4 linked regions of the Homo sapiens genome follow. The protein of the gene in region 4 purifies or fractionates together with the protein of the main gene of each other region. This does not show direct contact. Each region holds a gene or a part of one and is shown on either strand. Other genes may lie near its edges. The genes, in order: SDR9C7, GM2A, IMPA2 and HSF2.

Evidence for each region.
Region 1: the proteins of HSF2 (region 4) and SDR9C7 purify together in Homo sapiens (affinity purification with mass spectrometry; 2 studies listed by BioGRID and IntAct, with this or other methods). This does not show direct contact.
Region 2: the proteins of HSF2 (region 4) and GM2A purify together in Homo sapiens (affinity purification with mass spectrometry; 2 studies listed by BioGRID and IntAct, with this or other methods). This does not show direct contact.
Region 3: the proteins of HSF2 (region 4) and IMPA2 purify together in Homo sapiens (affinity purification with mass spectrometry; 2 studies listed by BioGRID and IntAct, with this or other methods). This does not show direct contact.

The regions. Positions count from the first base shown.
Region 1 is NC_000012.12:56,930,970-56,939,875, reverse strand, and holds the start of SDR9C7 (short-chain dehydrogenase/reductase family 9C member 7), read left to right. Parts: upstream 1-5,467; 5' UTR 5,468-5,614; coding exon 5,615-5,915; intron 5,916-8,906. UniProt on the Homo sapiens protein: Plays a crucial role in the formation of the epidermal permeability barrier.
Region 2 is NC_000005.10:151,248,060-151,257,230, forward strand, and holds the start of GM2A (ganglioside GM2 activator isoform 1 precursor), read left to right. Parts: upstream 1-5,125; 5' UTR 5,126-5,157; coding exon 5,158-5,238; intron 5,239-9,171.
Region 3 is NC_000018.10:12,004,684-12,013,182, forward strand, and holds part of IMPA2 (inositol monophosphatase 2), read left to right. Parts: intron 1-3,654; exon of another isoform or gene 3,655-3,726; coding exon of another isoform or gene 3,727-3,908; intron 3,909-5,199; coding exon 5,200-5,304; intron 5,305-7,486; coding exon 7,487-7,532; intron 7,533-8,499. UniProt on the Homo sapiens protein: Phosphatase that can use myo-inositol monophosphates, myo-inositol 1,4-diphosphate, scyllo-inositol-1,4-diphosphate, glucose-1-phosphate, beta-glycerophosphate and 2'-AMP as substrates in vitro.
Region 4 is NC_000006.12:122,429,836-122,434,302, reverse strand, and holds the end of HSF2 (heat shock factor protein 2), read right to left. Parts: intron 2,874-4,467; coding exon 2,789-2,873; intron 2,379-2,788; coding exon 2,083-2,378; 3' UTR 1,184-2,082; downstream 1-1,183. UniProt on the Homo sapiens protein: DNA-binding protein that specifically binds heat shock promoter elements (HSE) and activates transcription. In higher eukaryotes, HSF is unable to bind to the HSE unless the cells are heat shocked.

The sequences.
Region 1 (8,906 bases), on a different chromosome or scaffold from region 4:
TGCCTTGACATTGATGCAGGTTGTAGCACAGCTTGTCCCCTGATGCCCAGTGCAGGCCTGCTCTCTAACTTCCCCCAGTCTTAGGATTTAAGTGTATCTCTCTTAACCAGGATGCAGAAAGCAATTATTTATGTGTTTTTCTTATTCTTTCCTTCCATTTTCCTTTCTCTTCTGTCCTTTCCCCTTGGTTTCTCTGTCTTACCCCATTCCTGTCTTCCTGTTTTCCTGTCTCTGTCTCTCTCCCTTGGAGAGATATTTGTTGGGTCCTGGAGGCATGGGGAGAGCATCTGAGTCCATACAATATACTCTTGTGGCCCTTGGAAGAGTACCCAATAAACTCAGCCTAGGACAACAACAGGGTTTTGGCCCTGACCTAAAAGCTCTGACACCTGAGAGAGGAGCAAGAGAGCCAGAACCATTGTTGCCAGTTCTCATAGGGGTTGTGACCCAGTCAGCCCTGGTGGCCATGGCAGCCTCCTAAGCTGGGGAGGGTCCTGGCAGTGGGATCTGAGCTGGAGATTGAGGATCCCCACCTGGCAGCCTTGAACAGAAATGGGGGAATGACTTTTGTCTTCAGCCCAGACCTAGGGGGAGCCTCAGCTGCCTGCCTGTGCTGTGGGGTCCTCATGAGGTGAAGCACAGGGCCAGGCCTGTGGAGGAGGCTGGGCAGGTGGGTTCATATGGGCTCGTGGAGGCCCTGGACAGGAGCTGTGCCTCATGCTGTTGGCAGTGGAACCCCCAAAGAAGGGATTTGCTCAGGGGAGCTCTTTGGTCTAATCGGCTTCTAGACACCCACTTACTGCAGGGAGCCCAGTGGCTGTGAGTGTGGGGAGCCAGACTGAAGGCAGAGGGACGCTCCTTAGAGGACAGCTGCCATCACCCAGCTCAGAGGCCAGGGAGATTCCTGGGGCAGGAGAAGAAGGGAGGGGACTGAGGACTGCAGAGGAGGTAGAATGTGGGAATTCTGGTGATCCATTGGATGTGAGGGGCATAGGAGGTGATAGCACTGAGATGCTGCCTTGCTCTTGAATTGGTAGGACTTAGGGCTAGTAAGCTTTGGTATGTAAAATATGGAAACCCCAGAGAGAGGCAAGGCCACCATCATAACTTTTATCTGCTATCTGCTGCCCTTCCCAACTCTCCAAGCTTTCTTGCATCTCCCACTGTCGTTGCATGCTGGGTTTGTATTGGGTTTCTTTGTTTTTTGTATTTTGCCTCCCAAAATTTCTTAAGTCCTTGCCCTTCTGCATGTCTGCCATGCAGGAGGGAGCTCTCCCACTTTGGAGTGAAGGTGTCTGTGATTGAACCTGGTCACTTCAGGACCAGTATGGCCGGCTCTGAGAGGCATTTACAGAACCTCAAGGAGCTGTCGGACTAGGCCAGCCCCGAGGTCAAGGAGACGTATGGGGAGAAGTTTCTGATATCCCGTGAGTGAGCTGTGGACAGTGGGGAGATAAAGAAATCCTTGTCTAGAAGTCTGGGTCCATCATTAGTGCCTCCAACAGTATGAGAATCTGTCCTCCAAACTCTGCCTCCCCAAAAAAGTGAGGACATTTATCCCCATTCCCAGGGTGCCATGTGGTCAACTGTTCACCTAAAGGAAGCATCCAAGCTTTCTATAATTGGGACCACTGCCTCATCTGAATCCCTCATTATTTTGAAGAGGAAACTAAAGTCAGAGACAGTGGCTACCAGTGGGCTCATGGGCAGCTGGGTTTAGAGATAGCTGATTTTCATATTCTTAGGCTGTTAGTAGAGACCTTCCATTTATGAGTCCAGATATCTCAAAAAGAGAGGCAGAGGGGGCTTAGAGTGAAACGGATGTTCCTTGGGTGAAGGTTGGGGCACTCTCTGGGGAATATGGATGGATTAGACTTGAGGCATATCATTTGGGGGGCCTGGAATTCTTAGACACTGTCCTCCTAATTCAGAGCTCTAAATGGGAGGGAAGGGATGTGCTAGTACTTTAAGGATCTTTCCTCATCCTTAACATGCATCAGAAAAGCATCTAGAAGGCTTTGGGCAAAATGCAGTACGAATCTATCCTTGTTGACCCACTGCATGGAGCGCTCACTACTCAGCTGGCTGAGACACCAATCTTCTCTACCTCCCCATGAGCGACATGCCTACCTTCCTATGGACGTCACGCTCAACTGGGGCTCTCCAAGGCTGGCTAAGCCCCTGTGAATCCAAGACTGGGGTGCATGGTTGGGTGGAGCTGGGTGATCTGGGTGAGGTGATGTGTCTTGGGGAGAGTAATGGTGTGGTGGGAGGGAGCACTCTTGCCATTTGGATGCCTATCCCAGCTTCTTCCTCATGCCCTCCACAGAATTCCACTGAGATATCACTCAGGACTGGCAACATAGGAGGAAAGAACCAAGGTGTTCTTCTAAAGATTGGGACCCAGTAACGCTCATAGGTGTCCTGTTGCCTTTGAGTCTCTTGGCCAATTCTGAGGAGTCTACACAATGGGAGCGTGTGAGGAGGGGAAGGATCCACAGCCCACACCTTCTCTGCCTCCTGCTTCTTCCCCAGGTGTGCATCAACCTGGCCAGTCTATTACACTCTCTCCATGATGGAAATGGCCTGGAGGAAGTGGATGGGGGCTCCTCTGAATATACCTGTGGATAAGGTGTGGGGCGACAGGGCAGCCATCAGCCTGACCCCTAGACCTCAGGTGCCAGCTCTGGGGGCATTGGCTGGCAGTGGTGTTCTCGATAGGGATTCTGACAGAGGACACAGGAACCAATGTTTGACCCTCTTAAAACCATTGGCTGGCAGTGGTGTTCTCAATAGGGATTCGGACAGAGGACACAGGAACCAATGTTTGACCCTCTTGAAACCATGACCCTCAAAAAACCATCTGGTTACTTTAGTTCTAGAGCAAAAGCTAAAAAGTGCAGCCATGTGCAGCAAGTTGCCTTCTAGTCTGAGGGGAGCATGGGCTGTGAACAAGAGGGAGGAGGAGGCAGGTGCCTTCATGGGGATCTGGGGATAAGAGGGATGAACTCAGGAGGAAATTGAAGAGAGAAGTTGGATTATCCCTGCCCTGTCTCAGCCCTTTCTGCCACCAAGGTGAGGGGCAATTGTTTCCTTTCCAGGAGTGAATCAAGTAGCCTGGGGTCACAGGAGTGCACAGAGGGACAAGGAAGCAATGACATGTCACAAAGGCACTGGCAGGCCTCTTTGTAGCACTTTGTAGCGACCTCTTTGTAGCACTCAGTGACCGGCCCTCACTTTAACATCATTGCACTTGGGAGGGGTGCTGTTTCATGGGGTGAGAAATAGAGTGGTGGGAGGGAGCTCTCAAGTTCAGGGTCATGTACCTCACTTCCCTCACCTCTGTTCTAGTTTTTTTCTGGGACGTTATTCAGGACTCTGGTGATATTAGGAGGAAAGAACCACATTTTGCTGCTTAGGAAGGGAGACCCAATCACAGATAATGGCATCCCACTTCCTTGGGCTCTGAGCTTCATGGCCCACCTGTCAACCTGAAGAATCCACACTTGTGGAAGGTCTTGAGCAACTGGGGGTGGGTGAGCCCACACCTGCTCTTCCTCCTGTCTACCTCATCAGGGTGTGTCTTGGACCTCAGCAGTCTATGCTCTCCCACTGGAGGGAAATGGCCTGGCAGAGGAGAGGGCTCCTCTCCTCTGAGATACCTGTGTGCATGGGGTGGGGATGGGGAGTGCAGCTACCAACCTGACCTATCAGACCTTAGGGGCCAGCTTGGCAAGGAATGCTGTCATCTGAGAGAGGGAGGCATTTCTAGCCCTGGGAAGAAGAGCCTTCTATGTGGTCCTACCTCCCTCACACCCCCCACCCTCATGGACTGTGTGTTTAGTTTGAGGCCAGGGGAACACTGCCAGCATAGAGGCCCAGGAGGTGCTGAGTCAGGCCCAGGCCTGTGCTGGGGCAGTTCTGAGTTATCCTTATGCTAAGTCAGACCCAACTCCTGGACCTCACCTGTGTCCTCAAGGACTGGGATACCCAATGCCCCGGACCTGCTCAGTCTTGAGTGACATGGTCTGACCTGTTTCAGCCAAGACTTCTCTGTTCATTCACCCAGGAGGCAGACAGAGACTGGGAGATTGTTCCCAGATCCCGCATAGGAGGTGCTCTGCCTCAGGTTGGTTATGAAGTAGGTGTGGTTTGCTTTCTACCATTTCCCACCTCCATCCCCTATAAGCTTTAGGTCTGCTCTTTGGGGGTGGGTTCATAATCTGGCCCCCTCCCCTACTTTGTTAAGGAACGGCCAAACCCTGCGGGGCTTTCCCAGGGTGACACCTGCTTTATGTGATTCCACGCTGGTCAGACTTGGCAAATGGTGGATCACAGAGATACATCCTTTGTCCCTTCACACTAGAGAACTTTGTGGTCCCATTTCTGTGTCAGACTCGCTAAGCCATGAAGGTGTGAGCTAGGACCAGGCTCATCCCAAGGAATGGTGACCCTAGATGTTGATCCAAAGAACCACAGAGGCTCCAGCATCATTCCCTGCATCTTATGCAATTCTGGGTGTGGCCCCTCACTACTCACACCTCTGGTTTCCTTATTTCCTTTCCTTTACCACCTTACCTCTTAGCTTTCTGTAAATTATTTGCTAAATTGCCTAGAATCTCTGTTTCTCCTCCAAGTCCCGACCCTGAGAATTTTCTATGTCTCTGGCCCCAGTTCTCTGCTCCTCCTATATCTCATCCCCTCTTACAGTCAAGGCCTCTGCCCAGACAATTCCCTCAGCTGCCCAGTGAACTCATGATCCCTCCTCATCATCTTGCCCAGGGCTGCTTACTGGTGACCTGAGTATGACCCCCACAGGGTGTCAGGCCTGAGTCCCCCAGGTCTTTCTGCTTTCTGGTGGCTAAGCTTCACATGCCAGCCTCCCCTATAGGAGGGCCCTGCTGCCTCTAGCCTCAGGACAATGGAGGTACATCCACCCTAGGAGAAATCCATTGCTTTTCATCCTCTCTCATGATGGAGACTTACCTAAGAATTCCAGAGAGCTGATGACCTGCGACTTGTTTCTCTTGGGGTTTGGAAGGTACAGAACCAATGTTGTTTGTTTTACATTAATAAATTTGTCTTGAGTATTTTCCCTGAAAATAAACTTATTTACATACCTGCACTCACGACAAATGATTTTGATCCCTGGAGACCAAAATCCCCAGGCTGGGTTGGGGGCAGGGTGGGGACAGGATTTCTAGGGGAGCTGTCTGGGGTGAGTCCTCATCTTTCATTTGCCTGCCTTACACCGCCTGGGTGAGCCACCACTCATCACCAACATTACAAGTGGATTATTTCCAATTCTTGGCAGCTTTACCCATCAGGGCAGGGGGAGAGAGGGAGGCAGCTACCAGGGCTGTCAGAGGTGACAAGGCTTCAGGTTGGACTTGAATTTCTTGCATCTGGGCTAATTGCTGTGGTGATGCATCCACCTATAAAAATTACAGCGTGGCTCACCCAGGGACCTAGATTTGTTGCAAGCTGTGGGAGGAAGGAGAGTTCTTCTTCCAGGTGGTTTCCTGCAGACTGCCTGCTAGGGCTCAGAGGACCAGCTTCTTCCCTGCTGTCTCCTGAGCCCAGTCCCTCTTGGCCATCACATTCCCCTTGCCCTATGGCGGCCCTCACAGACCTCTCATTTATGTATCGCTGGTTCAAGAACTGCAATCTGGTTGGCAACCTCTCAGAGAAGTACGTCTTCATCACAGGCTGTGACTCTGGCTTCGGGAACCTGCTGGCCAAACAGCTGGTTGATCGGGGCATGCAGGTGCTGGCTGCTTGCTTCACTGAGGAGGGATCCCAGAAACTTCAGCGGGATACCTCCTATCGGCTGCAGACCACCCTACTGGATGTCACCAAGAGCGAAAGCATCAAGGCGGCGGCCCAGTGGGTGAGGGACAAAGTGGGCGAACAAGGTGGGGCGAATTACATTCTTTGGCTTTCTTGGTTTCTCCTTCTTCCTCTTCCTCTCTCCCGAAGCATCTGACAGTATCAGAGACCCTGATGTCCAGATTGGGTGGGAGGGGTGATGTAGGGAAAGGCCCCTGCCTCAATCTGATTGGAAGCCACTGCATGGTTTGGCCTGTTCACATGAAGGGGTGATTTCCCAAGGAAGTTTTCTGTCCTGGAAACTCAGAGAAACGGGAAAGAGGTCTCAATAGGAAGCGAGGGGGGAAGATGTGTTCTGTGTGTCCAAACCTCTAAAAATGGACGTGCCTGGCTGGGCGTGGTGGCTCACGCCTATGAGCCCAGCACTTTGGAAGGCCGAAGTGGGAGGATCATGAGGTCAAGAGATCGAGACCATCCCGGCCAACATGGTGAAACCCCATCTCTACTAAAAAGTATAAAAATTACCTGGGTGTGGTGGCACGTGCCTGTAGTCCCAGCTACTCAGGAGGCTGAGGCAGGAGAATCACTTGAACCCGGGAGGCGGAGGTTGCAGTGAGCCAAGATTGCGCCACTGCACTCCAGCCTCGTGACAGAGCAAGAATCCCTCTCAAAAAGAAAAAAAAGAAAAAAAAAGGATGTGCCTCTCTGATGTTTCAGCAGTCCTAACCATCAGCTCCTGGGGAAATACAAACACATTTCTTGTTGGGATCAGGATGGGGGAGGGGGAATGAGACAGGAGGCTGGATCCCATGAGTGGGTGCAGTTTGTCTCCTTGACTATGTCAGGCAGGGGAGAAAGAGATCTGGTCTCTTCTTGACATCATGGTGGGTGTTGATTTGACTTCAGGGCAAGTATGTATGTCACAGTGGCTGCTCCTATTGGGAAAGGAAGCTGTGGACTGGGGCTGGCCCAGGACTGTGTGGGGACCTGCCTCATGCACTTCCAGCACACAGGGTGTGGGCCCAGGAACAGGAGGAACAGGATGGCTGAGTTGCAGAAGCAGCAGACTAGAGGAAGTCCTCCCTCCTAAAGGAACTAGTCTGGAGCCCATGCGCAGGTCAGGGCAACAGAGCCCTGGAGCCAGGGGGATCTAGACAGTAACTCCCTGCTTGATTCTTCTCCTTAGCACTTATCACTAGTCAATGTACAATAGATTTTACTTATTTATTGTCTGTTTCCTCTGCTAGAATAAAGCTTCCTGGGGACAAGGATTTTTGTCCCTTTTATTTACTGTACATCCTTAGTACCTAGAATAATGTCTGGCACCTAGTAAGGTACTGAATAAATAGATTTGAGTGAGCTAATTAATTAATAATTCAGCAAGAGTGAGCCTCTGTCTTCAGCAGGCTGTCTCAGCCAGTTCCCTACATTCAGCCTTGAGCCACTTGCCTTAATACCTCACTTAGCATGTGAGTTTCCTGTTGCTATTGTAACAAATAACACAACTGTGGGGTCTGAAGACAATACAAACATATTATCTTGTAGTTGTGGAGGAGTAATGTCTAAAATAGGCCTCACTGATCTAAAATCAAAGTCAGCAGAGCTGTGTTCCTTCTAGAGGCTGTAGAGGAGAATCCGTCTCATCGACTTTTCCAGCTTCCAGAGGCAGCTGGCATCCCCTGGCTCCTGGCCTGCTACCTCCATCTTCAAGGCCCGCAAGGTTGGGCCCAGTCTTTTTCACACTTTTCTCAAGCTCTCTGATTCTCCGGTTTCTGCCTCTTTCCACTTAGGACTTGTGATTATATTGGGCTCACCAGGTTAATCCAGGATAATTTCCCGTGTTAGCTTCCTCCCTAACTTTAAGGACAATTAATTAGCAACCTCCATTCCACCTGCAACCTTAATTCCCCTTTCCCATGTAATCCAGCAGATTCACAGGTTCCAGAGATAATGAGGATGGGGACATCTTTGGGGGACCATTATTTTGCCTAAGCCACTTGGCAATATCCTGGTCTAAGAAACACTGGGAACTGGGGTGGGTAGGGGGATGGGAGAGGAAGTTCTTTCATGCTTTCTCATTGCTCCTGAATGGAGAAAGGCAGGGAGACTGGGTAGGGGCATGGCTTGGGTGGGGACCCCAGCCCTAGAGGGAGGGGTGGACTAGGATTTATGTTTGTGTTGAGACCTGCCCTCAGGAGACAGTGGGATGCGCCTGCAGAGTATCTTGGGGCTGCTGAGGCTGGGGCTGTGGTGCGAATCACCAGGCAGTAGGACTTGGGGAATCCTTGCATGAAGGAGCTGGAAGGGGTCCTTGAGGAGTGTTTAGAGGGGTTTACAGTAGAACCCCAATATGTAAAACAAATGAAAGGAGAGCTTCTCCTGCATTTTCCTCCCCCTAGAAGGCTTGCAAAATACAGCCTGGAAACAACTGTTTTAGTCTAATCTGATGAAGAGCCTGAGGCCCAGAGAGGGAAGTGACTTGTTCAAGGCTGGAGGTAAAACCAGGACTGGACCTGAAGCTCTTCAACCCTGGGCCCCTGCAGAGTTGAATGACAACACTTAGCATTATTTCTTTCCATTTGTACCAACCTAATTGAAATATCTCAAGGATAGTCCTCATCACATTTTCCATAATTATTTTATTTAAATATTTTATATATTTATTTATAAATATTATTATTTCCTTCTAGGCTTGTGAGTTCCTTGAGGGATAAGATGCTGTGTTGTTCATTTTATGTCTCCTTTGCCCTGTATTTTACTTTATTTTATTTTATATCGTTTTATTTCATTTTATTTTTAGAGACAGAGTCTCACTCTGTCACCCAGGCTGGAGTGCAATGGCACCATTATAGCTCACTGTAACCTCGAACAAGGTAACCTGTAACCCGGGCTCAAGTGATTCTCCCACCTCAGCCTCCCAAGTAGCTAGAACTACAGGCACATACCACCACGCCTGACTAATTTTTTTTCTTTTTTTGTAGAGACAGGGGTCTTACTCTGTTGCTCAGGCTGGTCTCAAACTCCTGGCCTCAAGTGATCCTCCCACCTCAGCCTCTCAAAGGGTTGTGATTACAAGT
Region 2 (9,171 bases), on a different chromosome or scaffold from region 4:
ACATCCAGAGTTACTCCAGGCTCCCCAGTAGTAATTACAAAGTTCCTGGACAGGGGCAGTGAGGAAGACCCCGGGCCCCTTCAGTCTTCATCTGATTCCTCCTTTCGCACTGCTAGAGTTTTGCCTAACCCAGCCCCTCAGTGGGAGCAGAGGCAATCAATTCTCCAGTGCCAGGGTTCGTGACTGGTGCCTTTGCGTTGACAGCAGGGGCCTGAGGGGAGCTGGAGGGCGGGGGCTTAGTACATTCCTTTGCCCAATGCCCGCTTTTCTTGCATTTGAAGCAAGACTTGCCTTTGCTGGTATTATCTTTATAGTCCTTCGGGTTTCCCTTAGATGCTCTTTGGGCATTCAGGGCATCACCAATGATGGCTGCCATAATTTTGGCTTGCCGTCTTTCTTTACTCTGTTCTCTTTTTCCTTCCTCCAGGTCATATTGTTATACACCATAAAGGCAGTATTAAGAAGCTGATTTTGATTAGCTTGTGGCCCCATCTGTAGCTTTTGGAGTTTACGTCTGATATCTGGGGCAGATTGGCTAATGAAATGCTGTGCCATTAATATTTTGCCTTCGGGAGAAGAAGGGTCCAGATTAGTATATATTTAAAGGCTTCCTCCAGCCTACCATAAAACATGGCTGGATTTTCCTCCTTGCCTTATGTAACCTCCCTTACTTTATCATAATTTACTGCCTTAGTTAATCCCTTTCTCATTCCTCCAAGGACAGCCTCAAGAAATTTAGCCAGGTGGTTCATTCCCATGGGGGCGTTATAGTTTCAATTAGGATCAGTAGTGGGAACTGTGTCTGGGCCTCGGTAATTGCCCTGAGGGTTTCAGGTGGATAATTCATCCACTTCCCTGCTGGCAGCCTCAAAGATTTGTTCCTTTCCTGAGGGAGTGCCAACAGGTTGCTAGAATGAATTGACCATCTCTCCATGAGAGATCAAAGGCTAAGGTCAAAGTGTGGAACTCATCTGCAAATTTCCTAGGATTCTCAGAACAGCTTCCTAGCTTTTCCTTACATTGTTGAATATTAGTTATAGAGAAGGGGGCCTGCACTAGGACTGGCCCCTCAACTCCTGCTACTTCCCTAAGGTGTAGCAGGGCTGGAAGAAGAGCTGAATACAGGGTTCCCCTCCGAATGTGAGGGGGACTTAGTAGGGTCTCTGGTGTTTGCTCCTGGGGTTGAGCCTCAGGAGCACTTGCAAGGGGCTATATGGGGGTGGTCACTGTTCACTCTGAGAGACAGGTGGCCCTTGTAAGAGGGGGTCATCTATAATATGTAGTTCTCCCTTAGAACTTTCCTTTGTGGGGTGGGTTCTGGGAGTTTCACAGATTGTTAGGTTTTGGTAAAGCGTCATGGAAGTCTGCATGTACAAGATTTCTGACCATGTGCTCTGTCTCTTGCAAAATAGGTCTAATTGCAGGATGATGTCATAATTAAGGCTACCATTGACTACCCATTTTTTCCAGGCTGGGCAGCTCATAATGGAGCCAGACAGTACTGCAGAAAAAAATTATATGTTTTCTCTTTAGATTGTCAGGGTCAAATTGATCGCAATGGTGGAGGACGTAGCCGAGCGGGGAATCAGGTGGAATAGGTAGAGAGTTGCCCACAGTGGTCTGGAAAAGAGAAGAGGACTGACCAGGTGACCCAAATTTTACCTGAGGCATCCTCCTGGAAAAATTCTGGGCCCAGACTGGGGTCCCTGGGAGCATCTCCCCATTAGGGCCCTGACTTAGCCTGTTAGATGTCTCTGACCTTAGATAGGTGCAGGCATTGCTTTGGAATGGTTCCCTCCACCACTGAAGACCTACTGTGAACTTTCCTTAAGGTTTTCCCATGCCACTTAAAGCAACTTTTTTTTTTTTTTGAGACAGGGTCTTGCTCTGTTGCCCAGGCTGGAGTGCAGTGGCATGATCTCGGCTCGCTGCAAGCTCTGCCTCCCAGGTTCATGCCATTCTCCTGCCTCAGCCTCCGAGTAGCTGGGACTACAGGCGCCGACCACCATGCCTGGCTAATTTTTTGTATATTTAGTAGAGATGGCGTTTCACCGTGTTAGCCAGGATGGTCTCAATCTCCTGACCTCGTGATCCGCCTGCCTCGGCCTCCCAAAGTGCTGGGATTACAGGCGTGAGCCACCGCAGCCGGCAAAGCAACCCTTTAACTCTCTCAATTTAGGCAATAATAGATTACCTTTCATGAATTCCCCCCACTCCCCATGCATCACACAGACCACCTACGACATGCCTGGACCCTCTGACTCATATAACCTTTTTGCATAGCTAGGTGGGTTTTCTGTCCTTAGCCAGTCAAGTGGGGGAAGGGAAGGGAAGAATTTAGCATAAGGTTTAAGTCACCTGAAACGTGTGAGTTTGCCCTGGATGAGCTGCTGCTGCTGCCAACCCAGACACAGGTAGGGATCTATAATCAGAAAGGACAGAAAAGAGTCTTTCACCCTTCTGGGCAGGGCAGCCGTCCCTGTTCACTCTTTGGCCTTCAGAGAACACTGGAGAGTGGCCCCGGCCAGTTTCCCTCAATTACCAAGGAGCTACTAGGAAACGACCAGTGAAAGACTGAAAAAGCAAAAAACAAACAAACAAAAAACAACAAAAAACAAAAAGGAATAGAACTCAGAAAAAAGAGAGAAAAAAAGAAAAGGAATAGGACTCAGAAAAATGAAAACAAGGAAAAAGACTTCTCAGTGACCAGGCAGTGGCGGTCAAGTGCTTCGACACGGAAGCCTTTCAGTCTCACCAGAGAGTGGCCCTGGCCAGAAACTTACAATTTCCTCTGTGCTTAGGCGCTGTCCACCGAGTTGGGTTCCGAGTTGGAAAGGAAAAGAGAGAGGGAGAGAAAAATTCCCCTGCATTAAAAGGGAAATGGAGAAAAATAAATCCCAAGCTTTGGGCCTACCTTCTCTCCTGGCTGGCTTGCCAAAATATGTTACCAGTAGAGGGTTTTGACTGAAAGTTGTCTAGGTTCTTGGCGTTTTTGAACAAAGAATTGGAGAAAACACACAGAAAAGCAAGGGAAAAATGGAGCAATGAAAGAACAAAAGCAAGGGTTTATTAAAAATGAAAGTACACTCAACAGTGTGGGAGCGGGCCAAGCAGCAGCTCAAGGGCCCAGATACAGAATCTTCTTGGGTCCAAATACCCCCTAGAGGTTTCCCATTGGCCACTTGGTGCTCACCTCATGTAAATGAAGTGGTGGCCCGCAATCAGTCTGACTGGTTAATCAGAGGCCGAAGTGAAGTTACAAAGGTCATGCTCCTGTGCAAACATCTGATTGGTTGTGGAAAGCAACCAATCAGGCTGAAGTGAAGTTACAAAGTTGCACTTCTATGCAATTTTAACATATAAACTGAAATGTAGCATAGAAATCGAAATGTACTTTCAATTTCCCATCTGCTGCACAGAAAAGGTGGGGGGTTGTAAAGAGAGTAGCCTCTGGTCCTCTTGTTACTTAGGTGTGGAAAGTTAGGGTTTTCCTTTCGATTTAGTTCTAGGAAGTCAGCGTGAAATGGCCTTAGGTTCCCTGCCTGCAGACTCTATTCTCCTACCTCAGTTGGGCTAGGTGAAAGGGAAGAGTTGATCAGAATGGGAGGATCATTATGTAAAGTATGGAGCTTAGTTAATAATAGTGTACCAATGTCATGCCCTCAGATTTAAAAAAAATTTTTTAATTTTTTATTCTTTTGCCACCTCCTTGTCGCTGGCAGTGCCCCCCAGTTATGCACAAGCACAAGCTCTGGGTCTGCAGTCTGAACCCCCGGCCAGGCCACGGGTGTCTTATCAACAATAGAGGAAACGAACAGAACTTTGTAGTATTTTTGCAACTTTTCTGTAAACCAAAATAAAAAGTTTACTTTAAAAAAGATGATCAGGTGAGTTTTAAATTCTACACATGCATTCATGTACTCAACAGATTGTCTATTATGCATCAGGCACTGGGTATAAATGAGTGCCTGCATCATGATGCCACCCCTTGTGTAGTTTACAATCCTGTGGTAAATTGGCGGTATTGGTAACAACATCCCTGTTTTTTCTAAAAGCAAATCTCCAACTAGTATATTAACCTGACAAAATCTTGGCTGATGGGGTGTCTAAAAAGAAGTCTTGCTCTATTCCTTCCTAGCTGTGCGACCTTGGCAGAGCTAACCTCACTGTGTATCAGTTTCCTCAGTGCTAAAATTGGGGAAGAAAAAAAAAAAGCATTCCCTTGTGCGTCCTTAGCATGCTTTCAAGCAGTTACTAAATGTTAGTTTTTATAACGGTTATAATTATTAAAAAGATACGGATTCGTGAAGTCAAGAGATCAAGACCGTCCTGGACAACACGGTGAAACCCCGTTTCTACTAAAAACACAAAAATTAGCTGGGCGTGTGGCGCGTGCCTGTAGTCCCAGCTAGTCGAGAGGCTGAGGCGGAAGAATCGCTTGAACCTGGGAGGCAGAGGTTGCAGTGAGCCGAGATCGCGCCACTGCACTCCAGCTCGGGCGACAGAGCGAGAGTCCGTCTCAAAGCAAAAAAAAAAAAAAAAAAGACACACATATGGGGAAGCGTAACATGGCAGAGAGTCTGACATTTTTGTCCGGAAGGACTTGGGGATGAAAACACTGAATCCGCGGTTTCCCAAAGGTCCTTCCAAAGGTGACGGCCCCGGCACGAGTTCACAAACCACAGCTCCGCCCCATCCCCTGCCCGGCCCCGCCCTTCCCAGGAGCTCTGCTCCGCCCCGCCCCCGACTCCGCTCGGCCCCTCCTCGCGCCACGCCCCCGCCCCTCCCGCGCGCGCAGCTCCGCCCCGCCCTCGTGATCCCGCCCCAACCTCGTGCTAAGCTCCCTTCCGTTCCAGCCGCCTTCAGCCCCGCCGCGCTCAGTTCCGCCCCTTTCTCTTCCAACTCCGCCTACGCCCCAGAGAGGGAAGGCCTTGACACCTACGCTAGAGAGACAGGCTCCAATGAAAAGAGCGAGGGGGCGGAGCCGGGAGGAATCGGTCCAATTCTCGGCCGGGAAGTCTCTGGCCGGGACGGGGCAGGGCGAACCTGCCAGTGACTGGACTCAGCTTCTTTGCGTAACCAATACTGGAAGGCATTTAAAGGCACCTCTGCCGCCACAGACCTTGCAGTTAACTCCGCCCTGACCCACCCTTCCCGATGCAGTCCCTGATGCAGGCTCCCCTCCTGATCGCCCTGGGCTTGCTTCTCGCGGCCCCTGCGCAAGCCCACCTGAAAAAGGTGAGTGCACCCTCTTTTAAGAGTCTGTTTGCAGCCTCCTGGCCCAGCTACGGGTGTGCGGGTCTGGCTGAGATATGGGGGTGGCCACTCCGTTCTCTAGAATTGGTTCTCTGCACTAGAGCCTTCCAAAGTAACTAATTATGGGATTCTGGTCTGTACAATGAGGGTGGCCTCTAAAGACTTGTTCTGCTCCAGGCCCTTTTTGGAGAGATTAATCTCACGTCTGCACTCTCCTGCCCTCCCTCCAAGCGCCGGAGTGAAAATGCAGACAGCCTTAAAACTAAGGCATTGCCCCCAGAGATTCAGTCCTGTTAACCCTGCACCTTACTCCTGACCCCCACTCCTTATGTCCCCCATGATAAGGCCTGCTGCCTCATCTCTTCCCCTGCTCGAATGCCCTGAGGTCTTCCTGAGAGTTGGGAGGGTTTGAGAGCTTTTCCAGGCCAGAGGATCCAGATTTGCCCATCTGGTGACAAATACCCAGGCCTGTGACCCCGCTGCCCTTGGTTATGAGCCACTGAGACAACAGTCCCCGTACCCTCCAAGCTTCCTCCTTCACTTCTCATTGACACCGCTTCTTCCTTCACTTCTCATTCACACCGTGCTGCAGATCCCTGGGAAAGGGAAGTTCTGTAATCCCTTCACCTGAAAAAGCCTCGTTCCTGGCTTATTGCAGCTAGCCCAATGTCTTTCAGATTCAATCTATGTTGTTGCAAATGACAAGATGTTCCCCCTTTTAAAGGCTGAATAGTATTCTGTTGTGTATATATGCCACATTTTCTTTATGCATTCAATTTGATGGATAATTTCTTCATCAAGTGTCTGTTGATGGATAATTTCTTTATCCATCAAGTGTCTGTTGATGGACACTTAGGTTATTTCCATATCTTAGCTATTGTGAGTAATGCTGCAATGAATATGGGAGTGCAGATAGCCCTTCGAAATGTTGATTTCAGTTCCTTTGGATATATACCCAGAAGTGGGATAATGGCTCATATGGTAGTTCTGTTTTATTATCTCATTTATATGCGGATTCTAACCAAGTTGAACTTACAGAAGTTGAGAGTAGAGGTGGGGTCTCACTCTGTCACCCAGGCTGGAGTGCAGTGGGGCGATTGTAGCTCACTGCAGCCTTAAACTCCTGGGCTCAAGCAGTCCTCCCACCTCAGTCTCCTGAGTAGCTGGGACTGCAGGTGTGGGCCACCAAGTTCTGCTAAGGAATAGGCTTTGAGATTTATTGCACACCAGGGTGACTATCGTCAGTAATGTATTATATACAGAAGCTCCTTAACTTTCCATGAGGTTATGTTCTGATAAACCCATCATAAGTTGAAAATGCATTTAATACAGCTAACCTGAGAATCATAGCCTAGCCTACCTTAAACATGCCTAGCCTACCTTAAACATGCCCAGAACATTTACATTAGCCTACAGTTGGGCAATATCATCTAACACAAAGCCTATTTCATAATAAAGTGTTGAATGTCTCATGTGATTTACTGAAGACTGTACTGAAAGTGAAAAACAGTATGGATACTAAAAGTACAGTTTCTACTGAATATTTATCACTTAGGCACGATTGTAAAGTTGAAAAATGGTATGTCAAACCATTGTAAGTCAGGAACTGTGTGCATTTCAAAACAACTAAGAGAATACATTTCACATTGCAGTGTACCCCATAAATGTATACAACTATGGTTTGTCAATTTAAAAAAAACCCAAGACCAGGTGCGGTGGTGCACACCTGTAATCCCAGGACTTTGGGAGGCTGAGGTGGACAGATTGCTTGAGCTCAGGAGTTCAAGACCAGCCTGGGCAACATGGTGAAGCCCCATCTCTGCAAAAATACAAAAATTAGCTGGGCGTGGTGGTGTGCGCCAGTATTCCCAGCTACTTGAGAGGCTAAGGTGAGAGGCCCAGCTACGCCTGAACCTGGGAGGTCATGGCTACAGCTGAGATTGCACCACTGCATTCCAGCCTGGGTGACAGAGTGAGACCCTATCTCACAAAAAAACCCCAAAAACAAAAACCCGATTCCATTGCCTCTTGGCTGCTAGCTGTGGTCAAGACATCACACATTTCTGGTAGCAAAGGGATAGGTCCAACCCTGATCCCCTCCCTTCTACCATCTTGGAAGTGTTTGAGAGTGAGGAACAGTGCTGTGTAGGGGAAAGCGGGTGATACTGAAAGCAGGGAGGCTTGGCTTCTGATCATTCCCCTGTCTCAATCCATGGATTTCCTGAGTCTTGTTCTCCTCATCTGTAAGATGGGTGTGATGGTGCCAACGTGCATCTCGGGGAGTTGTCGGTGAAGGGAAATGCATTCATTGATGGAAAATTTCTAAAATCAGAAACAAATAAAGCCATATAAATCTGTGGGCTTGGCCTCACTCTGCCCCCGAGGCAGAAAGTCTGTTTTGCTTGTTGAATGAAGGAACGTGGACCTTTTGACTTCATTTGCCTGGAGAATTTATACCTTGTTCCTGAATGTTGGCTGAGAATGCTTCTCTTGGCTCCAGGGCTGGCCGCTATGAGGTGGAGTCTGGCTAGAGGCTGCTAGCTCACCCTACAAACTTGTTGTATATGCTGTGGGTATGGATGCCATCTCAGACTAGGTCTTAGATTGGCAGTTTTGAAGAGGCCCTGAGACATTATAAAGGTCACTCAAAATCACACAGCACCTACATCTTCTTGGGGCTCATGTGATTCAGAGCCCTGACCTTGAGTCCCTGGGCCAGATAAAGATGGGGGTGGGGGGTGACAGTGAATGAACATCAGGAAACCTGAATTTCAGTTCCTCTTCTAGCATAACTGATCTTGTGACTACAGGCTGTGATGGGTGTTAGATAACAGGGGAGGATATCTAGCCCCATGCTAGTCATATAGTAGGTGCTTAATAGACTCTATAGTGCTGTATAGTGGCTGTCATTTGTTGTACCCATACTATGTGCTATGTACTGGGCTATGTGCTTTTTTCCTAAAAAAAAATTTGGAATAATTTTAGGTTTATAGAATAGTTGCAGCAGGGCGTGGTGGTTCACCCCTATAATCCAGCACTGTGGGAGACCAAGGCAGGCAAATCACTTGAGGCCAGGAGTTTGAGACCAACCTGAACCTGGCCAACATGGTGAAACCCTGTCCATACTAAAAATACAAAAATTAGCCAGGCATGGTGGCGTACACCTGTAGTCCCAGCTACTTGGGAGGCTGAGGCAGGAGAAATCACTTGAACCTAGGAGGCAGAGGTTGCAGTGAGCTGAGATCACGCTGCTGCACTCCAGCCTGGATGACAGAGTGAGACTCTGTCTCAAGAAAAAAAAAAAAAAAAGAAAAGTTACAGAGATAATATAGAGTTTCTATATACTCCTGACTCAGTTTTCCCTGTTAGCATCTTATATGTACATATCTCCAACACTAAGAAACCAACATTAGTACATTACTGTTAACTGAATTCTAGACTTTATTTGGATTTCACCAGTTTTCCCATTAATGCCCTCTTTCTGAGCCAGGATCCAATCCAGGGTACTGCACTGCCATTGTTGTCATGACACATATAATTGTAGTCCCCCCTCTCCTCCAGCCTATGACAGCTTCTTAGTCTTTCCTTGTTTATTCATGAGCTTGGCAGTCTTGAGGAGTTGTGCCCTGTGCTTTCTGTATACAAACATCTTACCCTCACAATAGCCCTGTGAGAAGATATCATTATGTCCACATAATAAATGAGGAAATTTTGAACCCCTAGGGGGTTAACTTACCCATGGTCTTAGCTAGTAAGACTGGCTGAGCTGGGTTTTAACTCATACCTGTAGTACCCATATCTCTGCCTCCAGAGCTGTGCCTTTCCCCTCCGTCTTGTACCACCCCTTCCCACTAGTTGGCCTAGGCTGGAATGGCAGATATCTGGTGACCAGCCTGGCCTTGGTGGGCACTGCTA
Region 3 (8,499 bases), on a different chromosome or scaffold from region 4:
CTGGGTAATTTTCATATTTTTAGTAGAGACGGGGTTTCACCATGTTGGCCAGTCTGGTCTTGAACTCCTGACCTCAAGTGATCCACCCACCTCAGCCTCCCAAAGTGCTGGGATTACAGGCGTGAGCCACCGTGCCCTGCCTATATTGTGGATTCTATGTAGATGTTCCAGTGGCTTTTAGGAAGGTCTTTATGATTTCACACATCTGTCTACAGTCATGTCTGCAGAGCAGACTCTCCCCACTCCCTCTGCAGACAGCTGTAAAACATTGTCTTTCATCTCACAGGTATTAGCTTCCTACATGAGTAAAATCAGGTTTAAGTGAATAAAAATTGTGCATCTCTTCCCATGTACCAGGGAAGTATTTTTGGTGCCTCCAAAGACCGAGCACGGTTCACGCCTCTGCTGGCCTTCACACCGCTGCAGCCACACAGTGCAGAAGCCTGCTCCCTGCTGCCCACAAGCATGAGGCAGGTGGGAAGGGGGATGCTCGTGCCACCTTGTAGGCGGGCAGGCAGTCTCATGGGCAGAGGTGTACACAAGGTGGGTGATGAGGAAGACAGCTCTAGGGTATGAATGATCAGCTGCTGAAAAACATCCAGTGCTCAGTGTGGGTACTTAGAGTTATTCTCATAAAAAATGTGAGGCAGAGTTAGTCAGGTGTGGTGATGCATGCCTGTGGTCCCAGCTACTCAGGAGGCTGAGGCAGGAGGATTGCTTGAGCCCAGTGGTTTGTGGCTTCAGTGAGCCATGATTGTGCCACTGCACTCCAGCCTGGCTGACAAAGCGAGACCATGTCTCCAAGAAAAAAAAAAAAAATTTCTAAAAGTACTTGCTGGGTTACACTAAATGAAACCTAAAAAACAAATAGATAAATAATAAAGGTTACACACAGCAGAAGCTTTGTTAACAAATTAACTTATATTAATAGTTGCTGCTGGGAAAACAAGCTGCTTGGTGACTTCCCTAAAGGGTGTCCCACGCATCTGGCGAATGAACAGACAGAGCTCCTGCTCCCGAGTGTCCTGGGAGGCACGTGGGCATGCCGCGTGGGTGGTCTGGGTGCTGCAGCGTGAGTTGTCCTGGGTGTGGAGTGTCAGTGCCTGCAGACCCACACTGCCTCCTCCTTCAGGGCTCACTGGCAGTTTTCTTTCCACCGCTTCAGTTTCCTACTTGAAGTCAGGTTTAAAAAGGAGAAGAATTGCACATTCCTCCTCAGTTTCTTAGAAACTTACCTTTGTGCCTGAGTCATTTCTAGTCCCTCTGGACCTGAGTCATATCTGTTCGCTGCTTTGTCAACCTTGTGCCCAGTTTAAGCTTTCGTAGTTGCTCCTTGTATGTGTGTTTTCAGGGTGTGGAGCGTTTTCTTTAAAAACGTCATTGCAAGCCATTACAGAAGAGGAAAGTCACATAGCTACAGAAGACATGGAAAAACAGATTTAGTGCCTGAAGTTTCTAGGAAAACTGGCAGTGCTGACAGCACTTATGATCACGCCCTAAGTGGAATCATCACCTGTGTGTCTCCTGCAGGCTGCTGTTGTCAGGAGGCAGCCTCTCCACCCCCTGCCCCGGCTGCCATTGTGGCTTCTACCCACCATTTTTCCTCCTAGATCTGTTTGGGGAGCACCAGTTCCTGAGCAGGGGCTCTGGCTGGTGGGCCTGTGCATCACCTGACCTAGAAGCATGTGGACAACTGAGAGTGGAGAGGCAGTTCCTGCAAGGAGCAAGGCGTGCAGTGTAGATGAAGAACCAGAAGCCTGGGTTCACTGCATCTCATCTGCCTTGCCTGGCTAGGCTGAAAGCTCCAGGGGCAGACTGAGCCTGCCCAGGCTCTCCAGGAACAGCTGATGATTCCTTGGGTGTCTTGCTTAGTGCTCCTGGCTTGACTTGACCTGGTCTTCTTGGCTCAGAAGCCCCTGCTTATTCGTGGGTTTCTCCAGGGGGCCGGGGAGGAGGTCGCACAGCCTGAGATGATGTATGCGTGCACTTGTCGTATCCCAGGGTTGTATTTCTAGATAATTTATCAGCAAAATGGAGGGGCTGGATGACTCTGCATCCCAGGCATGAACTTCATAACCCAGCAGTGGAAGGATGGTCCCAGAGTGGATGGGGACCAGGGTGGTTACAGTGTGTATGGCAGCTCCCGTGCATAGAAAAGTGACATCGGGCCAGGCGTGGTGGCTCACGCCTGCAATCCCAGCACTTTGGGAGCCTGAGGTGGGCGTATCACGAGATCAGGAGTTCAAGACCAGCCCGGCCAGCATGGTGAAACCCCATCTCTACTAAAGATAAAAAAAATTAGCCAGGCGTGTGGCGCACGCCTGTAATCCCAGCTACTCATGAGGCTGAGGCAGGAGAATTGCTTGAACCCGGGAGGCAGAGGTTGCAGTGAGCTGAGATCGCGCCATTGCACTCCAGCCTGGGCGACAGGGCGAGACTCTGTCTCCAAAAAAAAGTGACATCGAATACCATGAGATGCCTGCTGTTGCCTCTCAGCATCTCGGTGGGAGGACAGCACTGCCAGCGGCTCTGTCTGTTGCTGCAGGGGTGGCCCACATCTGCTGTGTCCACAGTGGTAGCCGCTCACCCACGTGACTGCCAAGCACTTGAAAGGTGGCTCATGAGACTGAAGAACTGAAGTCTTTATTTAATTCAAATGTAAGCAGCCATATGCGGTGACTGGCTACTGTAAGGCGCTGAGCGGTCACAGAGGTTTTCATTTCAGTCTTTCCATTCACACTCAAGTCTCCAGCCTTATCCAAAAGTTCATTGATGCCAAATCTTAGACCACATGGTTCGTGCGGGGAAAGTGGCTTCCAGGAGGCTGATGACCACAGTGGATAATACACCAAACACCAGAACATGGGACGCTTCTTTCTTTCTTTCCTTCTTTTCTTTCTTTTCTTTTCTTTCTTTCTTTCTCTTTCTTTCTTTCTTTTTCTTTCTTCTTTCTTTCTTTCTTTCTTTCTTTCTTTCTTTCTTTCTTTCTTTCTTTCCTTTCTTTCCTTTCTTTCCTTTCTTCCCTCCTTCCCTTCTTTATTTCTCTCTCTCTCCTTCCTTCCTTCCCTTCCTTCTTTCTTTTCTTTTTCTTTTCTTTCTTTTCTTTTTTTTGAGATGGAATCTCACTCTTGTCACCCCGGCTGGAGTGCAATGGCATGATCTCGGCTCACTGCATCCCTCCCGTCCTGGGTTCAAGCGATTCTCCTGCCTCAGACTCCCAAGCAGCTGGGATTATAGGCGTGCGCCACCACCCCCAGCTAATTTTTGTATTTTTATTTCTTTTTCTTTTTTTTTCTTTTTGAGATGGAGTCTCACTCTCCCAGGCTGGAGTGCAGCGGTGTGATCTCAGCTCACTGCAACGTTAGGATCACTGCAACCTCCGGCTCACTGCAACCTCCACCTCCTGGGTTCAAGCAATTCTCCTCTCTCAGTCTCTCAAGTAGCTGGGAGTACAGGCGCCCACCACCACGCCCAGCTAATTTTTGTATTTTTAGTAGAGACAGGGTTTCACCATGCTGGCCAGGCTGATCTCGAACTCCTGACCTCAGGTGATCTGCCCGCCTTGGCCTCCCACAGTGCTGGGATTACAGGCGTGAGCCACCGCGCCTTGCTTGTTTTTCACTTATTTTCTTTTTCTTACTCTCTGCAGGTCTCCTTTTTCTCTAGTACACATGTGAACCCGGCACAGGAACTGGATAGAAAACCTCTCGGCAAGGCCACATAGTCATGCACAGAACAGATGTTTGCTTAGCGCCTGCCCAAGGCCTCACCCTTAGTGAACTTGGGACAGTCCAAGAGTGTCAAAAGCACTGCCCTGAATGCTTTAGATCTAGTCTTTTCTTTGATCCTGAGAATGCCTTTGGAAGGTGTAAACAGCGGCCAGCTCCACAGGGACCAGCCTGCAGAAGGTGGGCTGCGAATACACCTGACCACAGCATCTTCCCTGTGTGTGTGGGCCTGCGTGTGGGTGGGGTGCAGGAGGAAGGGTGACAGTGCATGGGGCGAGAGTGCTTTCCCTTGTTTTTGGCCTGAGCAGGGGGTGCTGGGAGTTGCCATTCGTGGAGGTAGAGGCAAGTAGAGAAAACCAGGAGTTCCCTTCTGTGCAGGTGAATCTTGAGAGAACATTGTCTCGGTCAGGTTCCTAGCAGGACAGACGCACACTCAAGTGAGGATTGTAGGGGGCCTTGTTTGCAGAGGGACTCATTACAAAGGAGGGGCCAGCCCAGGGCCTGCTGCAGAGTGCAGGAGCAGGCCGCCCATGTCCCTCTAGCAGGAATGTGTCAAGCAGGCCACATGGAGGAGTGGAGCCTGCACAGGGCACATGGGGCAGGGAGCGTCCCAGCCTCTCTCCTTCCTGCAGCCCCACCCTTGCTTGCTCCCAGAGGGAAGCTGGATTTGTGACTGGCCAATGTAGCAAGACCCCACCTCTACAAAAATAAAAATACTAGCTGAATGTGGTGGTATGCATCTGTAGTCCCAGCTACTTGGGAGAACAAAGCAGGAGGATTGCTTGGATCCAGGAGTTTGAGGCTGCATGAGCTATGATGATACCACTGCACTCCAGCTGGGCAACAGATCAAGACCCTATCTCTTAAAAAACAACAACAAAAAAACCAGGGAAGTCAGATACCAGGGCAGGAAGGGCACCTTTGGGAAATGAACCAGCTGCGGGGGGGCTCTGTTTGTCACCTGTGTCTGCAGTTCAGGTGAGCCAGGCTGGGTACAGACGTGGGAGATCTCAGCTGCAAGTGACATTTAACCCCTCGGTGCCCAGGTATCAGCATTGACTGGGAGAATCAAAGTCAGAGTCCTGGGCCACCTTGCTTGGTCATATCTCATCAGCCTCCTCCCCTACAGACTGAAGTTAAAATCGAGTTTAGTTTTGCTTCAGAAGATCTGTTTTCCAGTGTTCTTCACGCTTGCATTTCTCTGCCTGGCCTGCTGGAATTCCCTGGTGCTCTTTCTGAACGCTGGCACTGAGGTGTCACTCTGTTTTCTAAATCCTGCTGAGTAGGTCCGCTGGCAGGCAGGTCAAAAAGCACATGGTTGTTTAAAGACTCTGCCTCTGTTTGACCCAGAGAAACCATGATGACATCTGTTTGCTGTGCCACCTTTTTCTTTAATGGGACTGGAAGCAATTTCAGGCACGTTATTCTGTGTCCTTGGTGCATTTTCTCAGGCTGGGTTCTTCCACTGCAGGTTCATTGCAGAAGAGGCCGCGGCTTCTGGGGCCAAGTGTGTGCTCACCCACAGCCCGACGTGGATCATCGACCCCATCGACGGCACCTGCAATTTTGTGCACAGGTGAGCTGAGCAGGGATCGCCTCCATTGCAGGGCTTAACATGTCCTCTTCTGTGAGGTTTTGTCTTTTCAAAAGCAGCATTTTTTAAGGCAGGAATATATAAACAAACCTATAGTACACTCATAGTCTCATCAGAAAGATGATCAGATCTTGATATTTTTAAAATAAGGTTTTCCGTTTGTGAGAGGCTCTTGGAGTATGTTAGGAAATCTGCACTTGTTTAAAAACCAGTTTGTTATGTTAAAAATGTTGGGTTGCATTTAACAAGGACCCCTTGAAGGAGTCTGACTCCCCTCACACCCCACCCCCACTGGAGAAAAAGGTGAGGTTGGGATACAAAGCCTGTGCTGCCCCACAGTGGCCCGGAGCCCAAGGTGTAGAGAGTGGCCTGTGACAGGTGAGACTTGAGAGCCAGCTTCCTGTATGAGAGCAAACCTTGTGGTTACAAAAAGCAGGAGGTTTGGGGAGGTCAGAAGGGCCCGTGTGGGGAGGTGAAGGGAATGGAGCTTCGGGGATGGTGAAGTGACAGGATGCAAAGGTGACAGGGACACGACCACAGGTGTTCTCTGGCAGTGGCAGGTGATGGTGCTGCGCTGCCTGTCTACACGCACAGGTGGCTGGGGGCCTGGGGCACAGAGCATGATGTGGCTTAAACGGAGCGTGGTTCTCCAGCTCTGGAGAACCCTGGAGAGATTCCCATTCCATGGGCGGGTGGCTTGCAGCTCCTGCGCTCACAGTGCACGCCAGCACACTAGGCTGCACGCGCTAAGCAGGAAGGGTGAGCAGAGCCCGGGTGTGGGCTCCTTTATGATCTGCCTCTGATGGCATGTTTATATGTAAAACATGAAGTTATTCCATGCTAAGCACAGCCTTTTTCTAGGTGAGTTGCCTCGAGAATTCAGTTGTGCCTACATAAGGTGACCCTTTCGAGGCAGTGGAGTCGTGCCATCTGGTGCCAGCAAATGTGTCACCAATCTCTCCTCTCATTTCAACTAAAGCATGATCCTTCCCAGGGCTCTCCTCCCCAGAGTATGTCACTGAGTGGAGCCTCATTACTTCTGCCTGCTCGTGGTTCCAGGGTGCTCATAATGGTGACATGGCAGGTGAAGCCCCGTCACATGGTGAAGGCCACACGTCCATTCGAGGGTCTTCAGTGGCTCCAGAGACATAGTTTCCAGTGCTTTCCTGTCTGCACCCCTGGGGGGATCCTGGTACTGGGGAGGTGACTGGGAAAAGAGCAGCAATTTCAGAACAGTCTCCAGAGCTGATCCTGACAGTTCCTGAACCCCACGCTATAGCTGTGGTGATTGTTGTGGTCTGAAGACATCCGAAAGCCACCAGCATCTGCCACTCAGATGGCGCCTGTTCACCCCTGTGCCCACCAGTGCTGGGCCACAGCAGTGGGAGAAAGCTCTCCTGGGCACTGGAACAAGCGTGAGGCCTGGCACATGGTGCATTTGCTCTGGAAGCCAGCGGCTCATCCCAAGGTCCCACACACCCTGGCAGTCAGAGTTGCATTTGTGTACAATTGGTTTTGCATTTTTCCTGTCAGTTTGCAGTACCCAGCCTTTCCTGCCTGTTTTTAAGCTCCAGTGATCTCCCTATAAAGGAAGGATTATTTTGAAGATATTGAGCGGCAATAGCAGAATCACAAAACTGCAGGCAAACTGATCATGAAAACTGTCTGCAGCCGTGGCTGTCCCTGCAGCTGGCTACTGGGCACTCAGGCAGGGATGCTAGCAGTGCCACAGGGTGAGCTGTGGCTCAGAACTGGCCCCCATGGGGAGGCTGTGGTGCCTTCTGGGACCACCTGCCTGGCGCCCCACCTGGGACTGGGTCTGGCCTTTGGGGAGGGCTCTGCTGTCCCTTTAGGTCTGGAGAACCAGAAAACAGATGATTGAGATCCTTCCTAATTGGGCTTCAGAGGGTTGTTGAGTTACATCAGTCTTATGTGACTTTCACAGTGCTGTTTTCTTTCAAGGTTAACTGTCTTACGACATGGTCAGTTTATTCTGTTTGTCTTGGAAGCAGTTAGTGAAACTGTGGGAAGTAGTTTTTAAACAACCAACCCACCCAGAGTGTAGGAAGGTCCTTCTGAGCCTGCGGGGAGCCGCACAGCACACAGGCTCCCGAGAGCTGCCGCTCTTGTTCCAGAGAGTAAACCTTTCTATTTTCCTTTGCAGATTCCCGACTGTGGCGGTTAGCATTGGATTTGCTGTTCGACAAGAGGTGCGGGTGTGGCCCAGGTCCCCAGGGCCCCTCCCTGGGCTCCCTCTGGCCATCCTTCCTTTCTGGCTTCAGCCTCTGTGCGCCTGGTTTGCTGTTTGCCCTGTGCCTTAATCATGACTGGCAAATCCAAGCCTGTGGGTTTCAAATCCGAGAAAATAAACAAGTCCAGACTGGCTTTGGGGTGTGCGGGGTGGGGCTCCGTGGCTGGCCCTTGTCCCCCGTGGAGGGCTGGCCTCGTGTCAACCGTGGTCTATTTGTGACACTGCTGTGGAAGCGGAAGTCTTAAGTGAACGGTCCAAGTGCATCTCCAGCTGACCCCTAGAGCGTGTGATCTCACAAACTAAAAGGAGCACTTAGTTTTGGAGAGCATCCTCAATCCCAATATTCTAATAATTCTTTCTTATCTTCCTCTGGTTATTAGCATGAGAACATAGCTCTTTCATGGTTCCCATAGACCTTCTGAACTACACAGTGTTGTGCGACCTGCATGGAAGGCGTGGGGCTGAGGTTTAAAGCTTATTAAATAATTCAAGCAGCAGCACTGAGAAGAGCCTTAATTTCTTTCTAATTGAAACAGTTTTATTTAAATAGGGCCGAGGGCTGCATGTTTCTCAAAAGCAGCCCTGCTTCAGAGCAGCATTTGTGCAGCTTCACCTTAGTCTCAGCACAGACTCCCTGGCAGGGGAGCTGAGAGAAGTACTTAAGTTGAAGTATTTAAAGTTAAGTACTAAAGTATCTCAAAGTACTTAAGCTGAAGATAAGTAAGAATTGTAATACTGTAATTTGTCTAAGGATGCAATGATTGACGTCTTTCTCTGTTAAATAATATTGTGGTGCCCAGAGTGGGTGGGAGGCTGAGCAGTACTTCAGGGGTTGATTGATGTTCTGTGACTGTGTGAAGGGGCTGCTGGAACAGCTGGCTAGGTCCTTGGCCCTTCTGTGGGTTGGCTAGGGTCTGTCCTATGTT
Region 4 (4,467 bases):
CGGGCACGGTGGCTCATGCGTGTAATCCCGGCACTTTGGGAGGCCGAGGCAGGCAGATCACCTGAGGTCAGGAGTTCAAGACCGGCCTGGCCAACATGGTGAAACCCCATCTCTACTAAAAATAAAAAATTAGCCAGGTGTGTTGGCACATGACTGTAGTCCCAGCTACTCAAGAGGCTGAGGCAAGAGAATCGCTTGAATCTGGGAGGCGGAGGTTGCAGTGAGCCGAGATCACGCCACTGCTCTCTACCCTGGGCGACAGAGTGAAAGTCTGTCTCAAAAAAAAAATTGTTTGGAGGAAGTAGAGTGGATGATAGAGATCAAATCACTATGGCATTCAAATTCCTTTAGGTAAATGTTAAAGAAACATATAACAATTATGTTTTAAAACAGCAATATTAACTATATCCTAAATTCCTTCCAACTATTTAAACTTAAGATGAAAAATCTTAAATGTCAACTTTAAAAGTACCAGGGTCATAATCAAGTTTTTCAAAATTATTTTTTAAGTGCTTCTAGAGTTCCAAAATGCCCCCAAGAAGAAGAAACTTGACTGTATTTCACAATGAGAAAGGAATGAAGAAAAGTCTTTTAAGGTTTTCTCCTCTCAGTTTCTAAACTCTTATCACCCTTAGAAACATAACCTCTTCAGCTCACGCAGAGCACTGTTGTAGGGTCTTGAATTAATTCACCAAGATCCCACCATCAGAGCCAAGTATTTTAGGATCTAACTAAAACTCTCCTAAGGGAATTTTCCTATTCTTCTGTGCTAGCCCTTACTTTGAATCTTTACATCATAATAAAAGAAATTCTAAGACACTGACAGAATATGGCCAATAGGAAAACCTGCCTTGAAACTCATTAAATAGCCCTATACAATATTAATTGTACTGCTTTCAGCCCTTTGCCCAAAGGTGAAATTCTTCACATGATAAAGTGCCCTGGCCTTGCATTAAGTCTCCATAATTCTCTTGGGCAACTGTTTCAAAGGAAAGAGGTGATTTGACTATTTCTCTTATCTTCTCTCCAGACATCCAGTGATAATATTCTTACACTATTTGGGACAATGAGAGGCATAATTCTCTCACTTTTTTATTAGAAACATAGAAAGCAACCCAGTATAATTTTTAAACAAAGAACTTTAAAATACATTAAATTTAGAGATTATATTTCTCCCTTGTTGCAATATACAATATATTTTCGAGATGAGGCACAAATATCTTGGTATGATTCATATTGAGAATAATGAACCACAGACAGTTTAAAGCTACTGCTTCCTATGAGAAGAAAAAATTGTTTCATGTGAGTGTCACCTCTAAAGAAGACACATAACAGACACTAGTACTCAACATTCATTGTATTTATTTTACTAAACAGTATGGTTCAAAAAAACACAAACCGGAAAACCTTTATTTAAAACTAGTCCAACTAACTGGATGGGGCTCACTCCATCCCATCCCACCCCCGATCTTTCTATATATATGGAGCTGGAACCCTATCAGACAGCGAGCATTCACGTACACTTTGTCTTTCCTGTTGAACATGAATAAACGTCTTTGAACATAAATGAACTTCTCTGAACCAAAAGAAACAAATGAAGTTTTACAAGATACAGGCACTTTATGTTCCCAGTTTTAAAAATAAGCCAAGTGAAAAATATTTAATAAAAATAACTGGAGCAGAGAAAGCTTTAGGAGTTATACCATTAGTTCAAATGACTTACACTCAATGCAAATAGACAGCATCAAACAGGAAAACAAACAAAAATTTAACTGAGGTTAATGGTCGTATTTGTAAAAAAAAGATATCCAATTTACCAAAATTGGAGAAAAATGGCCATTTGAATCCAACTTAAAGATACGCCAATAATGTGCATTACATCTGCGTAACTATGCAGCTGAGTAACACCTGAAAGCTCTGCAAGAGTGTGTGGTTAGTGAGAAAAGCAAAAGGTGCTTTTATTCCACAGTATCTGATTAAACAAAACAAAGCAATTTACAAAAAAAGTACCAAATGATACTTTAAAATAAATAGTTCATCATTTTGATGAATATATACATGTAAAGTCCACTTCCTGGGGATTTAGCTATCTAAAAGTGGCATATCACTATCCAGAGGTGCAGGAGCAAGTTCACATAAATAAAACAGTGTAGCTTCACTAGCTTCAGCTTCAGTCAATGGCTCCAGGCGAACAAGCTTACTTTGGGTTGGTTCTGGGTCTAGGCTGCTATCCAGAAGCTCATCAACTTCTATGGGTTTATCTACAGAGGACAAAACTTCTGATGATGCTGTTGTACTCGCCTGTTCAACAGAAGAAGCAGGGTTCCCATCGAGGAATGCAAGAAGTGGAAAGGCGGTATACTGGATAAGCTGCTTATCTATAAAGATCAGAAAAACACTCTTTTATCACCAGCTTATACTGAGTTCAAGCTGAGGGGAAAAAAATGAAAACAGAGATGTACACATAGGCAATTACTACTCTCATATAGCCAAACAAGAAATGACATGATGCACTATGTCAATAAATTTTAAAATGTGCAAGTCAATAGCTCTTATTCAACAATTAAGAAATGAGGGGTCTTTAGTTTCCTAAAGTTAAATAGGATAAAAAAAAAAAACTTAAAGAATTGTTACCTCACCAATTCAACTTTCTCTATATACTAGAACCTCGACACACTATTCACAGAACTAAAGCCAGCATATTCAATTAAGACTACCCTCGGCTTGCACTTGTTTCTGCATAGGATTAAAAAAACCTACAGAGACTGAATACTATATTTATACCTACCTGGTTTGGATTTAGATTTTCTTCCCTCTTCCGAAACTGGCTGAACTACATTGTTCTTGGTAGTTTCTAATCCTTTATTCTCAGACTAAAAGAAAAAAATATATATATAAGTACTTGTTTCATATTTTATGTTTCTGAAAAAAATGAAAAATTGATACAATATGTAAATACTGGTATATTATCTGAAATATATGAGATGGGGAAACATCAGGGAAAATGGGCTACAGAGAGAGATCTGAGTAGAGATAACAAGACTGGTTAAGGAACTATTGCTGTCACTGAGGGGATAAAACAAAGAACCTGAATTAAGATGTTCTATATTAAGTATGAAATGAAGGGGGATTTCAGCAGCAGAACAGATAGAATTTGTCACGAGTAAAAGATCAGAATGAATCAAAGATGACTGGTTTCAAAATGTTAATTGAGAGATAATTAACTAAGCAATTAAATTCATTTTAAGTAGTTTTGATTTAAAAAATGTATTATACATTTCACTCATAAACAGAATATTTAGCATAAGTGAACATATTTAGAGTAGCTCAGGATGACATAATGACATCCTTAAAACTCTTTATCACTATTTAGAAGCCTCAAAGTTGAGGTGGTGTTTCTTCTTGTCCTTTCTGTAGCTCTGTCAGTTCTTTTCTGTCATTTAAATTGCTTCTTTGAACCACTTTCTTCTCTCCTCACATCTGACTGTGGTAGGGAAATTATATCTTTACCATTGTTAATTTCTTCAGTGCTCCTTTCATGTTCAAACTCTGAGGTGCAGAGGTTCTTAATTTTTCCTGTAAGTCCCAGACATCTGCAAGTCCCAGATCTACATGCTGGCTAAATATATATGGTGTAACCAACTGTAAACTAATTCCAGTAATTCCCCTGATATTTAACATAAAATGAAGCTGTGTAAGTTTTAGGATTTAAGAGAAAATAAGGGCTCCAAGATATAATAAAAACTACGAAACCTTTCCAAAAGTGTACATAAAAATATTTCATCACTTAGCATTCACAATAAATATATAAACATTAATGAAATAATACCATCTTTATTTTTAGGCTTCCTAAAATAGGTATTTTCCAAAGACGTCACCGTTATTCTAAAACATGAGAACCTGATAACAAATGGATTTCAAATAGACACAATAAAAAATGATAAAGAGGATATCACCACTGATCCCACAGAAATACAAACTACCATCAGAGAATACTATAAACACCTCTACACGAATAAACTAGAAAATCCAGAAGAAATGAATAAATTCCTGGACACATACACCCTCCCAAGACTAATCCAGGAAGAAGTCAAATCTCTGAATAGACCAATAACAAGTTCTGAAATTGAGGCAGTAATTAATAGCCTACCAACCAAAAAAAGCCAGGACCAGACGGATTCACAGCTGAATTCTACCAGAGGTACAAAGAGGAGCGGTACCATTCCTTCTGAAACTATTCCAAACAACAGAAAAAGAGGGACTCCTCCCTAACTCATTTTATGAGGCCAGCGTCATCCTGATACCAAAACCTGGCAGAGACACAACAAAAAAAGAAAATTTCAGGCCAATATCCCTGATAAACATCAATGCGAAAATCCTCAATAAAATACTGGCAAACTGAATCCAGCAGCACATCATAAAGCTTATCCATCACCATCAAGTCGGCTTCATCCCTGGGATGTAAGG